2 separate regions of the Homo sapiens genome follow, and region 1 is linked to region 2. A link means that fine-mapping ties the variant in region 2 to the expression of a gene that starts in the linked region. Tissue or cell type: thyroid. Region 2 holds a variant in brackets; the other region holds the start of a gene. All regions are shown on one strand. Distances are between the middles of the regions.

Region 1 (8,089 bases), 240 kb before region 2:
GCCCAGCCCCCAAATTATTTGCCAACCTCCCCCACAGATGAGTGTGTCATGTGACTAAGTTCTTGCCCATAAGCGGAAGTGTTGTGTGAGACTTCTGGATAGGTCCCTTTTTTTCTGGACTCCTTCTGACCTACAATGCCGACAAGGTGCCTCGATCTCCAGCAGCCATCTTGGGTCATAGGGCAACCTTAAGAATGGAAGCCTCACACTAGGATGGCGAAAGATTAAGGTAGCAGGAACCTGACTTCACGATGACTGTGAAGCTACTATATATCCTCTGGGATGCTCCTTCTGCATTTATTTTACTTAAGAGAGTAAAAATGTATATCTTGCTTAAGACACTATTATTTCTAGTTATTGTTATTAGCAGATGAACACAATTCCTAAGTGATACATATATTAAGGTATTAATTGAAAATATTTTGTGATTTCTAGGATTAGATTTCTAGATACGTGTAATAGCTTTTCCCCTATCCCGCCAGGTACACACACATAAACATGCATTCTAATTTGTAAGAAAGAAAACTAAGTGATTATGTGAAGTTGTACCAGTAATATATTTTGTGCAATTGCAAAGGATAATGCTTTTGCAATGTGAATCATGGGAAAATAAGAATTTGAGCATCACTTAAGAATTTTTCAATGTACCTACATGCACTAAAAAACAAACAAACAAAAAACAAAAAACCAAGGCCGGGCGCTCTGGCTCACGCCTGTAATCCCAGCAATTTGGGAGGCCAAGGCAGGCAGATCACAGGGTCAGGAGATGGAGACCATCCTGGCTAACACGGTGAAACCTGTTTCTACTAAAAATACAAAAAATTAGCCGGGCCTGCTGGCGGGCGCCTGTAGTCCCAGCTACTCAGGAGGCTGAGGCAGGAGAACGGTATGAACGCGGGAGGTGGAGCTTGCAGTGAGCAGAGATGGCGCCACTGCACTCCAGCCTGGGTGACAGAGCGAGACTCCATCTCAAAAAAGACAAAACAAAACAAAACAAACCAAAACAGTAGAGAGGAAGACAAGCAAATACAGAAATGGAATTCAGCAACAGAATATTAATAGTTTTTTCTTTATCTTTTGCAATTAATAGCAAGAAAGGAAGGAAAGATCAATCTATTGAGCAGTCAGATGGAATGGTAAAGATTAATCATTCTCTTCCCTTCAGAAGTTGCCTTAATTCTTTGTCTTTTAAGATCCAGCTCTTTTATAAGGCCCTCACCAATCTCTCAGTAGGAATTAACCTCTGCTCTTTATCAGGACTAGAACCAAGCTACAGCGGGTGAGGCATTTGTCTTGGGTACAAAAGTTAAAACTCAGTAATCAAGATAAATATTTTAATGGAATATTTTAATTGGCAAACTAAGGCATGTGGGCCAGTCTCCTGTTTTTGTAAATAATTTTTTAATTATACTTTGCTTTTATTTGTATTATAGCACTTAAATAGTACTTTTTACATTAGCCCTCTCCCAACAGGGCTGTACTCATTTTTGTATTCCTCATGTACCTACTACTCTGTTTGAAGCATAAAGGCCTCTTAAAAAAATCTTGCATTGAGTTGATTAAAGGATTTTTGCAAGAATATATTGTACTGGTGATGGTGGGGTTCAATTTTCATACTGAATTCAACAATAGCAAAAGAATAACAGAATGATGACTATTTTGAAAGTACTTATAATTTAGTGCTGTGGGAAAAATCACTTGGCTTGTCTTTGACTAAAACCCTGCTGAGCTTAGGGAGATAGAGAATTGTAATATTACATTATGTTCATATAGCACTTTTTCCTACATAAAGTGCTTTCTTTTAATCCTCACCTCAATCCTGTAAGGTCGGTATTGCTATCCCTATTTATTGTAGAGAGATTGAGAAATGAGGTGACTTGCCCAGGGAGTTATGGGCAAAAAGAGGCAGAGCTGGGGTTCTAACCCAGATTTTGTCTGTCACAATTGAATGCCCTTTCTGCGATTATAAATCTTATGTCTCAGAGTTGAATGAGAAACAATTTATACAGCAACTACAATAGCATTCTTATCATTAAAATGTTCTGATTATGTGTGTGTGTGTTTGTGTATGTGTGTGTGTGTATGTGTGTGTGTGATGAAGTAGCTGAACTTGGTATTTTTCGGTAGAGGGTAGGAAACTACACATTGAAAAGCCGAAGATGAAATTATGTTATTTGAGTATTACTTTCTAACTATAACTTTACCACTGATGTGTGTATGATATTCTGCAAAGTGACTAAACTGTACGTGTTTGCTTCTTCATGGAAAAAAAATTTGGGAAGGCATTTAAACTTTTCAGCTGAAAAAGGTTATGTCAATGTGAAAGATTATAGTACTCGAGAATTAGGAGTTGATTAAATTTAACGGTTTCCTTTTCATACTTAGGGGGAAAAATCTACGACTGTATTTTAAAACTCCATATGGCAATTAAATTTGAGAGCGTATAACTAACTACTTCACTAGAATTTCCATCAGTATACAATAAACACACAGTCAAAACCTCAAATGTCCATTATTAGCCCATCTAGTAGACGATATTTTATAATTATGGATTCCCCATATTGATTGATGTCCAGAGAAAAACTGCAGTCTTCTCTTACTAAGCTGATAGTTGAGTTCCTGGGAAATCCTCACCCCCTAAGAACAAATAATTCTCAAAGAAATTCAAAGTCATTCCTTTTGGTGAATTGCAATCAGTCATCAATAACTATTTATGGAATGTCCGAAGGGTGCCTAGGCATTGAAATGGCAAGAGACTTATATTTGCTTAATTCAAAGGATTTCTAAAGGCAGTCTGAGGACTTGCAAGAAGTCTTTAAAGATGCAAAGTGGTGTGTTCTTTAACTGCCCCTACCTGGAATGAATTGAACAGTCTGGGTGTTAGGGCTTTGATGTCTAATCCCGCTTTGCAAGCGAAGACTCCACTGGTGCCAAGCGACAGGCGGGCTGGTGGGCAGACATGGCACCACCACCGGGGGCTTTCAGGACTGGTCCAGCCCTCCCAGGCAGGTGTAGGGCCGACTGCAGCAACAGCGGCCCTGACCCCAGCTCCCATGGCTCCCCTCCCCCCGCACTCCCACCCCCCGCACCCGGCACACACCATCTCCCAGTCACCCAGTCTCGACCGGTTCTCGCGAGATCCGGGTTACTGAGCGCTCGGGGCCTTTTCAAATCGGGATCCGTTACCGCTTCCCCGGCAGCCGCCATTGTCGCGCTCGGAGCCCCTCAGCTCAGGCGGCCGAGGCGGAGGCAGCGGCGGCGGGATGGCGGACGCCAACAAGGCCGAGGTGCCCGGGGCCACTGGTGGCGACAGCCCGCACCTGCAGCCCGCAGAGCCGCCGGGCGAGCCGCGGCGAGAGCCGCACCCCGCGGAGGCGGAGAAGCAGCAGCCGCAGCACAGCAGCAGCTCCAATGGCGTTAAAATGTATTGTCTTTTCCTCCGGGAACCGGGGCGAGGTGGGGGGCGGGGAGTCTACCGGGCGGCTAGAGGCCGGGCTGTGCCCCGATGGGGGACAACCACCCCCAGACCCCGGCCCGCCCCCGGGCCATCGGCTTCCTGAGGAGCAGGTGCAGCTGGGCCGCTCCCAGGCCCTTCCCCGCCCGCCCCAGGCCTGGCCGCCTGTGGTCTGGGAGCCGGGGCTGGGGGCCCGGGGACCAGCGCTCTTCCCTGATTTCTAGCCCGAGACAGCGAACACCCCTCTTCCCTGACTTTGGTTAAAGAATCTTTGAGCAAAGCTCAGCGACCGCCACGGTTTGCAGGAAAATGGTCCCCCTTTAAGGACCAGTAGTTAGTGTTCATCACTAGGGAGTATCTAGGGATGACATCATCGGACATTTCCTCTTAACCACCGAGAACATATTTAAAAGGAATATTCCTGGCTTCTTTCTGAGCTTCACAAGTTTAGTGTTTTGTTGTTTTCTAAAGTGTATGTTCATTTTTAAACTGATTTATACCGAGAGGAAGTTTAATAATGTGCTGTTAGACTCTATGTTTTGTGTTACTCTTGAATTGGCTAGACGTACTTTAAAAAGGGAAATGTGCGATGTGCGTGGCTTCCCTTCCCACTGGGTAATGTGCGTCAGCTGTGGAGAGTATTTTTTTTTTTAACTCAGTGTATGATTATCTTAAGTTTGGTATAATAGATGGTTAAGATTTTTTTTTTCCCAAATGAAGGAAGACTTTTAAGGTCGCAGCTGTCACCAGTGCCTATAAAGAATTTAGTTGACCCCAATCCATAATAATTTCTGGTTCTAGGGAAATGTTATGCTCTCCTTTGTTCCTGTCCTGTGGGAGGATATGAAGTTAAGCGCTTACTTTCATATGCCTACCTCCTTAAACCTGAAGTTGAAAGTATGTTAATAATTAAGTGAAAACATCCTTTTCCTTCTCTGTTATGCCTCAGAGCAGAAAGCAATAGATATATGCTCACAGTAAAATAGACAAGGGAAAGGTCTTTCTGACCTTTGTATAAGCATGTTTGAAATTGTATGGTAAGAACTGGACCAGTCTGTGTAAAAGTTGGTGGCAAAAAAGATGGGGTAGCTCTCCCCAGCTCTTTGACACTCTTGCTCTCAAATGAGTTTGAACAGGATCGGCAGCATCTTCTAGGAGAATAGAGGTGCAGGTATAAGAGATTGGAACTTAGTGGAGTTTATTCCTGGATGAAGAGTGGTGCACCTCAGTAATTGAGGAACCAGAAAGGGAATGAAGTGCTTTCTACCATGCTTGCCAAAATGTGGGCTTTCTGGAATTTGGCATTAAAAATAGAAATGAAAACCGGTGGAATGATAAACTTAAAAATATGTGCTATTCATATCTAAACACGAGTATACATGCCACCTTTTCTCCTGAACAAAAAGTGCAGCCTTGAATTACAGAGAGAAGCCCTCCTATACTTGGGTATGATTAGTTTTGATATAGGGGAAGTTTGGTATCTAAACCTCCATCAGATTTTCTATTCCCTTCTAAAGTCTCTTCATGATTTAGCAAGACAGGAAAAGAGAAAGGAGAAAGGTGGAGAAAGAATCCTTTTCTAATTTAGGAAGAGAAAAATATAAGGTGAAGAAATGAAGAAATATTACTAGTAAATACAGATTATTTCCATATTGCTTATAATTCGCCTCTCCCTTTCTCTTTTTCCCAGAAGTTGAATCGAGTCCAATTTACTCTCAGGGATTTCTCTTACTGTCTATTCCATAAGAAGATTTGTGATGGTCCAGCATGAGTCATTCAAACTGAATAACTAGCGACCTAGTCCTTTTTTTTTTTTTTTTTTTTTTTACTTCGTGAACTAGTAGGAGTGGATAACAACCCCAATACATAAACCTTGAGTTGATTACCATATACTTTTAATAATAAAAATAATTCATTGTTGATTATAAAAATTACCATAATATTGCCCCAAATTATGTATTGGTTGGAATTGAACAGAGTACTGCTTGTCATCAGGATTGAAATAATATTTGCTGAGGTTAATCCATAGTTATTGAGGGTGGGAGACCACTATGTCTTATTCTTCTTTGTATTCTTAAGGCCTAGTAAATATTTGTGGAAGAAATGCAGAAGTGAACTTTCATGCTTATGAAACTCATATACAGGGAATTTAGTTTGCATATTCACACCTTTAGAAAAGATCCGTTTTCCAACTGTAGTCTTCTTCTTTAACGCCAAATGGTATACTAGCTCTCCTTTTCTTAAAAATGAATAGGAGGGAAAAGAGCAGTATTATTATAACTTTATTATTCATGTGTAATTAAGTATAACTTTGGAGTAGGTAGAGATTGAGAGTTATATTAGGGTACTATAAAATATTAAGCATTGGAGCAAGGTAATGTGTTCTTTAGCTGAGTGATTTTTATTAGGAATAAAGACTAGAACTGTTTCCCCCAGCTTTATTGAGGTAAATTGACAAAAATTGTATATTTTGAAGTGTACAGTGTGATGGTTTGGTATACAAATAAATTGTGAAATGATTACCACAATCACGCTAATTAACGTATCTGTTACCTCGCATAGCTACCATATTTTTTGGTGTTGAAAATACTTAAGATCTATTCTTTAAGCAAATTTCAAGTATACAGTAAATATGTTAAGTATAGTCACTATACTGTACCTTAGATCTACAGAACTTACTCATCTTATAACTGAAAGTTTGTGCCCTTAGAACATTTCCCCATCCCCTGCTGCCCTCCACCTCTGGTAAACACCCTTCTACTCTCTGCTTCTGAGTTTGACTTTTTTAAAAGTCTGTGTGTAAGTGAGATCATGTAGCATTTGTCTTTCTGAGTCTGGCTTTTTTCACATAGCCCAATGTCCTCTAGGTTTATCTCTGTTGTTGCAAATGGCAAGATTTTGTTCTTTTTGTAAGGCTGAATAATAATATTCCAGTGTGGATGTGTTGTGTAAACATAAAATATAATATATATCATGTTTCCTTTAATCATTTATCTGTCAATGGACACTTAAGTCGTTGTTTCCATATCTTGGGTATTGTGGATGATGCAGCGAACATGGGAGTGCAGATATCTCCTTGAGATAGTGATTTCATTTTCATTGGATATATACCCAGAAGTGGCATTGATGAATCATGTGGTAGTTCTGTTTTTAATTTTTTGTGGACCCTTGATGCTGTTTTCCATAATGGCTGTACCAATGTATATTCCCACCAGCAGTATCTAAAGGTTCTTTCTCCACGTCCTCAGCAACAGTTGCTATCTTTTGACTTTTCGATAAGTCATCCTAACAGGTATGAAGTGATATTGCAGTCTGGTTTTGAGTTGTATTTCCCTGATGAACAGTGATATTGAGCACCTTTTCATATACCTTTTGGCCGTTGGTATGTCTTCTTTGGAAAAATTATCTGTTTGGATCCTTTTCTCATTTTTTAAATTGGGTTGCTATTGAGTTGTATGGGTTCCTTATACATTTTTGATATTAATCCCTTATTGGATATATGGTTTGCAAATTTTATCTCTCATTTCTTAGGTTGCCTTTTTATTTTGTTGAGTTTCCTTTGCTGTGCAATAACTTTTTACTTTGATGTAGTCCCAGTTGTTTACTTTTGTTTGTGTTGTCTGTGCTTTTGGTGTCATATCAAAAAAAAAAAAAATCATTGCCAAGGCCAAGGTCATGGAGCTTTTCTCTTGTGTTTTCTTCTAGGAGTTCCATGGTTTTAGGTGTTATAAGTTTTTAATCCATTTTCATTTTGTTTTGTATGTGGATATCTAGTTTTCCCAATACCATTTTTTGAAGAGACTGTCCTTTCACCATTGTATATTTTTGGTGCCTTTGTCAAGGATTAGTTTACCATATATTGGGGATGTGTTTTTGAGTGTTTGTTATGCTCCATTGGTCTGTGTGTCTGTTTTTGTACCAGTACCATATTGTTTTGATTACTATAGATTTGTAATATAACTTGAATCAGGTAGTGTGGTACTTTTAGTTTTTTCTTCTTGTTTAAGCTTGCTTTAGCCATTTGAGATCTTTTATGGTTCATACGGATTTCAGGAATTTTTCCGTTTCTGTGAAAAATGCTGTTAGAATTTTGATAGAGATCACATTGAATTTATAGGTCATTTTGGGTAGGAAGGACATTTTGACAATATTAATTCCTCTCATCTGTGAACATGGAATATCTTTCATTTGTATTATTTTCAATTTCTTTTATCATTGTTTGATCGTTTTTCAGTGTATAGCTCTTTAGCTTTCTTGGTTAAATTTATTTCTAGGTATTTTATTCTTTCTGATGCTATTTTAAATGAGATTATGTTCTTAATTTTTTGGATAGTTCATTATTATTAGTGTGTAGATATGCAGTGGATTTTTGAATGTTGACTTTGTATTCTATAACTTTACTGAATTTGTTCTAATAGTTTTTTTGGTGTTGTCTTTAAAATTTTCTCTGAATAATTTTCTATATAAGATCACATCTTCTGCAAACAGAGTTAATTTTACTTCTTTCTCTCCAATTTGGTTGCCTTTTATGTCTTTTATTTGCCTAATTGCTCTGGCTGTGACCTTCAGTACAATGTTGAATAGAAGTGGTGAGCATGGGCATCTTCTCTTTTTCCTGCTCTTAGAGGTAAAACC
Region 2 (8,110 bases):
TTATAATTTTTTTCTAGAAATGTATTAATATCTATTCTTATAAACTTGGTAACATAATTTTTTACTGCCATTAAGTACTAACTATACTCCCTTATTAAATTTTAATCTATGCTATATCTGCAGTTAGAGCGCTTTTTCATTTCTAGCATTTTCTGTGTGTTCTTCCTTGATTTTTCTCTTGACTGATTTTCCCATAGGTTTGGTTATTTTATTAACCTCTTTCTAAGCTGTCTTTCAAATTTTTGGTTCTTTGTGTGATAACTTTGTTTTCCATTTCATCTACCATCTTCGCTGTTATTAGAGACTTTGTGATAAAGAATCTCTAACATTTATTGAGGGACTGGCATGAGACAGGTATCATTACATTATCTTATTTTGTCCTCATGATAACTTTAAAGGGAAGATGATAATATTGTACCTATTGTACAAATTAGGAAGCTTTGTGAAAGTCATAGGCCCAGCTAATCACAAAGCTGGGATTTGTACCATTCCTCTATTTTGTTTGAACTAGAACTCAAAGAATAAAGACAATGTTTAGTTCCAAGGAATAAATTAAAAATGCTGGGATTTTGGTTATGATATGAAGCCATAGAAAATTTTTGTTGAATTTGGAGTCGAGGCTAGTCAGTTCATAGCTGCTGCCTTCAGCCGTACTTCTGTTCTATGGATGGCAGAATGAGAGACTCTAATTATCATATGAGTCCTATCTAGACATTTTCTTTCCAGATATGTCTAAGCCAAAAATAATTGTTGTATATGTAATGGAGGGCTTCCTCCAAGTTATCAAATTGTCTTGTAATAGATGATAATTTTTTTTTGTATTTGAGTGTTGAGTTAGCTTATTTGCAATCAGTGTTCAAAGCATTTGCAAATGTTGCCTCTAGCTCTCACACTTCTCACAACTTCAGCAGCCTGTGAGATAAACAGGATAGTTATTATTCCCACCCTACAGATGTAAATAAGAGAAGCTGAATATCTTGCTCAAGGTCACATACATAGTGAGAAGCAGAATAATTTGAGAATACAGTCTGACTTCCATCTTGTTCATTGCTTTTAAAATTCATTCATTCCACATATACTTATTAAAGACCCTCTACGTGTAAGGTACAGTGTTGGGCATTGTAGTGTAATAGAAAGTTGTGTAAGTCATAGATATATGATACTCATAAAAATAATTACAATAAAAATGTTATATGAGAGATTTAGGTAAAGGCTTATGGGAAATTCAGAAGAGGGGGAGAATTTACCTTTTAGTGGAATTAAGAGGAAGATTCCAATATTTTTCTACTATGCTCCAAATCAATCATAAGAATTAGTCAAGATCAACAACGTGTTTTGGGAAACCTTGCAACGTAGTATTACATTGTATCCAATAGACTAAACGGACCAGAATGTCAAAGAAAATTCTGGAAAGAGATGAGTAAACTGGGTAGCTCAATGTACTGTAATACTACCCACAGCTGAATTTGAGGAACTTCCCAGATTTCTATAAGACTGTGGTAAGATCACCATTCACTATTAGACGCTGCCCACTTCTCCTCTATTGTAATCAAAAATGGTTGTAAATGAAAGAGATGTCTCTCTTTTCTCTAAGAAATCATCAGGAATAAATGCCATCATGCCTCATATACCTTAGTACCAAAAGTATATCTCTTTCACAAATTTGAGAACCCACATCATCAAAGAACATGCGGAAATATCTCCATATATAAAGATCTATATTCTCTAATCATCTAAATCCTTCCACCTTTTTCTCTCTCTCTCTCTTTCTTTCTCCCTTCCTTCCTTCCTTTCCTTCTTCCATTCTTCCCTTCTTTCCTTTCTTTCCTTCCTTTCCTTCCTTTCCTTTCTCTCTTTCTCTTTCTTTCTTTCTTTTTTGTTTTTGAGATGGAGTTTTGCTCTTGTCACCCAGGCTAGAGTGCAATGGTGCGATCTTGGCTCACTGCAACCTCCGCCTCCCAGGTTCAAGTTATTCTCCTGCCTCAGCCTCCCGAGTAGCTGGGATTACAGGCACCAGCCACCATACCTGGCTAATTTTTGTATTTTTAGTAGAGACAGGGTTTCATCATGTTGGCCAAGCTGGTCTCGAACTCCTGACCTCAGGTGATCCACCCGCCTTGGTCTCCCAAAGTGCTGGTATTACAGGCATGAGCCACCATGCCTAGCCTGTCCTTTCTTTGGAATAATCTCTCGCATCCTCAGTCTCTCCTTTGAACACTCATTCCTTTATTTTATGATTTATCTAAAACCTAATTGTCTCCTAAAAGGAGGACACTACTTTCCTTGAAGCCCTCTTAGGGGTATCTGCTTTTCCCCACACAATGCCCACATCATAAACTAAAGAGATGGTGATTGGAGCCCTTCTTATTCATCATTGTTTTTCTAGGTCTTTTCTTTTCTTTTTTATTTCAAAAATCTTTTGAGGCATATGTCATTAGACTAAACTACCTTCTACTATTCCATCTTGCAATCATTTTCTGGCCTTTCAGTCATACAACTTATTGAAGATTTTAGCACTCAGTTAATGGTATATCTCTGTCAGTATTCCTTAATCTCTCTCTCTCTTTCTTTCCTTTCTTTCCTCTCTTTCCTCTCCTTCCTTTCTTTCTTTCTTTCTTTCTTTCTTTCTTTCTTTCTTTCTTTCTTTCTTTCTTTCTTTCTTTTCTCTTTCTTCTCCTTCCTTCCTTCCTTCTCTCTCTCTCTCTCTTTTCTCTTTCCTTTTCTTTTGACATAGGGTCTCTCTCTGTCATGGTACAATCATAGCTCACTCCAACTTCCAACTTTTGGCCTCAAGCTGTCCTCCCACCTCAGCCTGCAGACTATCCAGTAATCATTCTTGATTACTTCAACAATTATCTAGATCTTCCATTCAACAACTTTCCTCTCAGATCTTTTTACTTTGATGTTTTCAACCAATCGACCTCAGCCATTCACTCCACTCACTCTCATAATTAAACTCTGAACCTCATTATTACCTTTAACTTTTCCAAATATCAATTTCAGGCATTCCAATCTTTGACAATCACTCTTAATTTTCTAACATATTTATTCCAGTACTCAAACCGCAAAAGCCCTTTGACCCACAGAGACCATCAGTTTGTTGCCCATTCATCTCTTTCCTTTACATCAAACCTCTCTTCTCATTTCCATCTTTTCAAACTAGACTAAATTCTATGGTCCATCAGTCCCTCGCATACAACCTAAACAACCTTTCCCCTTTTCTTTCCATAGGATTCATTTTGCAAGAGCACAAACTTGGTTAATTAAAACTCTCCACATCCCCTCTCCTTGCATCTGAGCAGAGCATGGCCAGAAAAAAAAAATCTACTATTATGCTGCATGGACTCACTTGAAATTTTAAACCACAAAACTCAAACAAACCCTCAGCACTGCCCAACCAATTTTCTTTGTCTCTCTAGGCAATTTGCTTTTCCACTCTTTGGGAAGATTATTTCACACCTTCTGTCTCTTCAAACCTGTTCTCCCCTTCTCACTCAGAGCAGATGATCTCACTTCCTATTTCACTGAAGAATAAGAACAATCAGAAGAGAAAATGTATCTTTCAACACAAAATTTGTCAGTCTAAATATATCTGTACCCCTATCTTCTGCCTTCATTCCTGGTAAGTGGGATAATCTTTCCTAGTTCCTATCAAATGCTTGGGTACTGGATCTCATCTCCTGTAAACTACTCAAGGACTCTGGTCTTGAAATTCTCCCCTTCACTCCTGCATCATCAGTTTCTCCCTTTCTATTTGGTCATTTCCATCAATGAGAAGACATGGTAGAATATCCGTTTTTAGGGAAGAATTCCTCATTCATTCTCCCAGGGCAGGAAAAATAAATGTTGTGATTGGTAAATGGAGGAGTTGAGCTCAGATCTTTCTTCCTTTCACTTTCCTCCTTGGGCTCCCCCTGCCTGGAGAAAGCCCACATTCTATTTCTTTCCTTAAAATTATGTTTTAAAAGGGTAGACCCCCATGAGGAAGGCCCACAATTGTTCAGAGCTGCCAGGAACTGGGCAGATAAGTCTGCTTAATTCTCGGTACAATATTATTAATTGTATTTTAGCTAATAGACTTAAATCCACCTACCAACACTTTTGTCAGTAATGAAAGTAATATTTTGATCTTTGACTGCCTGTTTCCTATCTCTCAGTAGATTCAGAATTTGGTCATATATAAAGATAATGTTTTTTACTGGATTCTCTCAAATCCCAGAATCTCCTA[T/C]CTTAAAAATGTTGCCTAGATCTTGTCTTTCTCCATCTCTCACCCTATTATTAGAAATGCCCTCTTTTAAAGCAAAGCTCCCCAGTAAATTTGGTCTAACTCACTGTCAACTCGTTCTTACCTCCTCTTACCTCTTCAGACTTTCAGTCCCAACACAATGCTAAATTGATTCTGTCAAGACCACTGGCAACTTACATCTTGCTAAATCCAATGGTCAATTTCCAGCACTCGAATTACACAATCTCTCAATCTCGTTTGCCACAGTTGATTACTCTATGTTTCTTAAAGTGTTTTTTCTCCTTCCTGGCTTCCTGAATTCGACTTTTCTTCTTGGATACCACTGAGGTAGGTTTTCATCCTGCTTCACAGATGAGCTCGGTGGCCACTTCCTTTTCATTCTTCATTCCCTTCCCCACCCCACCTAATAACTTTCATATTATCATTCCCTTATTGTCCTTAACCCACCTCCATCCCATTTTCCCCACCATTAGTATACTAGCTAACTTAGGCACTCTGTGACTTTGGCTCTTTTCTTTTCTTTTCTCTTTCTTTCTTCCTTCCTTCCTTTCTTTCTTTCTTTTCCGTCTTACTTTTTTTCTCTTTCTCTCTTTCTTTCTTTCCTTACTTTTCTTTCTTTTCCTTCTTCCTTTGTTTTTTCTCTTTCTCTCTTTCTTTTCCTTTCTTTCTTACTTTTCTTTCTTTGTTTCTTTCCTTCCTCCCTCCCTTCCTCTGTTCCTCCCTTCCTTCTTCCCTCCTTCTTTCCTCCCTTCTTCTTTCCCTCCTTTCTTCCTTCCCTCCCTCCTTCACTTCTTCCCTCTCTCACTTCTTTCCTTCTTTCCTTCCTTCCTTTTTTCTTTTCTTCCTTCCTTCCTCCCTCTTTCCCTCCTTTTTTCCTCCCCTCCCTCCCTCACTTCTTTCCTTCCTCCTTTCTTTCTTCCTTCCTTGCTTCCTTCCTTGCTCCCTCCTTCCCTGCCTCCCTTCCTCCATCTCGTCCTTTCTTCCTTCCTTTCTTCTCTCTCATTCCCAATGTTCTCACAGAAGATTCCTTTCACTTCCAGCCCCAACTGAAACCTGGCTGTCCTCTAATAATGCCACTTTATTTGGCGATATGTATTTAAAAAAAAAATTGACTCCAAAATTCTATTTATAGAAATATGTATTTATAGAAATATATCCTAAGGGAAGAATATGAGAAAAAATATGTAAGCAAATATGTCCATCTCAACAATAGTCATAATGGTGAAAAAACCTCAAAAACAAATATAAATATTTGTTAATTGGAGGGTACAAAAATTAGCAAACAGAACTAGATATGTATCTATTAACATGGGAAAATGTTGTTATTTTAAGAAAGATAAAAGTCCCAGGTTATAAGATAGCAAGAAAATTACGATCCAATGTTTACCTATGAAACAATATATGGTAAATTGCACATACATGTAAGTTAGTTTACATAAAGATAGGGTTTTAAAAAATTGTATCTTTTCTCTTCCTGTTCCTTTGTTGGACCCAGGTTAGTGGAAGGAGAGGATGAAGAGGTGCTGGGTGAGACTTTCTAAGTTTGGAAGTGAGAACACAGATCAGAAAGGAAAAGATTGATAAACTGATTACATAATAACTTGTGTACATTCATATAGACAGATGTTTCACATAAATATATAAGGCTGGAAAACATTATCAGTAAATGTGGCATGATTATGTAAATATATCATTCAAACTGATAAGAAAATCAGTAAGCCTAAAGTAAGAAGCAGATATGAACAGCAAATGTTTCTAGAAGTAGAACTGACAGAAATAATGAAAGAATGCCCAGGCTCACTAGAAATCAAATGTCAGCTGAAGCTGCAATGATGCAATCTCCCCATTAAACTAGTAAGTTAGTAAACTATAGATGTAAATGTGTATGTTTACATATGTATATGTGCCCATATATGAGTATCTCCACATACATATGTGTGTACACACACACACACTCACACACACATACACACACACACACACTTACACACACTCACTCTACCCTACCAGGTTATAAAAGTTCCATGAGGGAGAAACTATTTTGTGTGATTGAATGCTTTATCCTGGGCACCAAGATCAGTGATAGAAACTTAGTAAGTGCTTAATAAATATCTGTTGAATGAATAAATGCCAGTGAAGTTATGGTGAAACTGATACACATTTTTAAATAACTTATTCTATTACTATAGCTTCCCAATTTGCAAAATCATTTCAAAATTATGAGTATTTCATATCTGTTTAACTTTTTCAGTTTCCAAACATAATAAAATATATATATTGACCCAGTCCTTTAAAAAAGTTTAATTATTTGATTCTAGTTTTTTAATGTTTTTCCTGTCCTTTATTTAGCAATGTAATCTACTTATTTATATCGTGTTTTAGTGCAACTTACAAGAAAAATAACGTGTCAGAGAAAATTGCATTGTAAATGTAAAAATGCAAATCAAATAAAAATTCCATTACAAATCACTCGTGAGGCGATCTCTAACATCGATTTCAGGACAAAATATCACTGAAACAGCCACTGCCTTATTATGCAGACTATAAAATACGCTTTAAGAAAATGGCAAAAGGTCAAGGTCTTTCTCTTTCTCTTTTTCCAGTCAGGTCAGGTAAATAATAGGGCATTAGAATGAAAAACTATTATATTTCTTACTCTGGGGCTGAAAACCATGGAATATTTACAACATGCATAACTCTAAAAGTGCTAGCCTTTCATTTTAACTTTGAAGTTTGAGTGATTTTGGTTGGAAATATGCATAGATATATCACAATTCAATTGAGAATTAAAAGACAGGGCAAATCTTTGAGGGAGTGGGCACCTTGGTGTTGTGACCTGAGAAGCCCCACAGTTGTCACGGCCCAGCCGTCGAGATGCAGACCTTTGGGCAAACAAGCATTCATTCATCTTTGAAATCCTACAACAAAGCAAATCTGGAGATTTACTACCAAAATGTTACTTCCTGGGCATTTTTGCCATCATAAACCTTCCACTGACCTTCCTCTTCCCCCTCCACAGTAAGGAAGGAAGACACTTTTTAACTCCCAACAGCAATCAGTAATACTCACCTTTCCACTTATTGTTTGTGAAAGCAGACTAGTGTAAGGGAAACTAGTTAAACCCATTGGATTGGAATTTAAGAAACCAGTTCAATTCTAACTCTGTCATATGTAAATTCAGAGAAGTCATTAAATTAATCTAAGCCTTAGATTGCTTGTCTATGTAATAAAACTAATAATATCAGTTCCACCTGCCTTCCAAGAGTGTTATAAAATTATATGGTGGTAGTGTTCAAGTAGTATGTACATTGTATTATTCTTTTTGCAGCTTTTTCACTCTCATCCTTGAGATTTTGGACCTTACTTCAAAAGCAAATACTCTTCAGGAAACTAATCCTCCAACCTAGCAATCAGTCATTTTTCCTTTAGTTAGCTCCAACATAGCATCTGCTTTCTTCTTAAGAGTGTGGCGGGGCAGGATTGAGTTTTAATTCATAGAAGAGATGGAGAGAAGTAATTTTAAAATATAAGACACTGCCTAACGTAAGGCTGAAAGGCCCTCCTAGCTGATCTTTTCTATTCCCTTCATGTATCTCTCAGCAATGTACTCATAAGTCTCCAACTGGTATGTACACTCTTAGCCCTCTCTTCCAGTTTGAACCCAATTCATCTGCCCATCTCCTAGACACCTGCAATCAACTGATCTCCATTGAACTCATCAGTTCCCGTGTGCATTTTCACCAAACCCGTCTCAGTCCATGGACATGCCACTCTAATCACTGCCCAAGCCAGAAACCTCACAGGTATCTTACATTCCAACTTCTCTCAACACTCATATTTTATGATCAACCAGTCCTGAGAATT

Direction of the effects. Positions count from the first base shown, and alleles are read on the strand shown. Sizes are in standard deviations (SD) of each study's normalised expression.
With allele C in place of T in region 2, the expression in thyroid of the gene that starts at base 3,206 in region 1 is higher (large effect, 0.89 SD a copy in GTEx).

What was found. PIP is the estimated chance that this variant, and not a neighbour inherited with it, causes the effect.
Region 1: MYEF2 starts here. The variant in region 2 is fine-mapped to the expression of MYEF2 in thyroid (GTEx, PIP above 0.99). The same link has a PIP of 0.9 or more in skeletal muscle.

Annotation. Positions count from the first base shown.
Region 1 is chr15:48,173,412-48,181,500 of GRCh38, reverse strand. It overlaps MYEF2 (myelin expression factor 2), which reads left to right and starts at 3,206. Exons shown (of 17, transcript NM_016132.5): 1 at 3,206-3,424. The coding sequence starts at 3,264. It also overlaps a transcript of CTXN2 not described here. RefSeq lists silencers at 2,965-3,064, 3,235-3,664, 3,695-3,864 and an enhancer at 2,611-3,262.
Region 2 is chr15:47,934,939-47,943,048 of GRCh38, reverse strand. The region is part of intron 1 of LOC124900354 (a long non-coding RNA gene); the gene reads right to left. Among named protein-coding and RNA genes, the nearest start is that of LINC01491, 93 kb to the right of the region's middle. The variant T/C (reference allele first, on the strand shown) is at 4,229.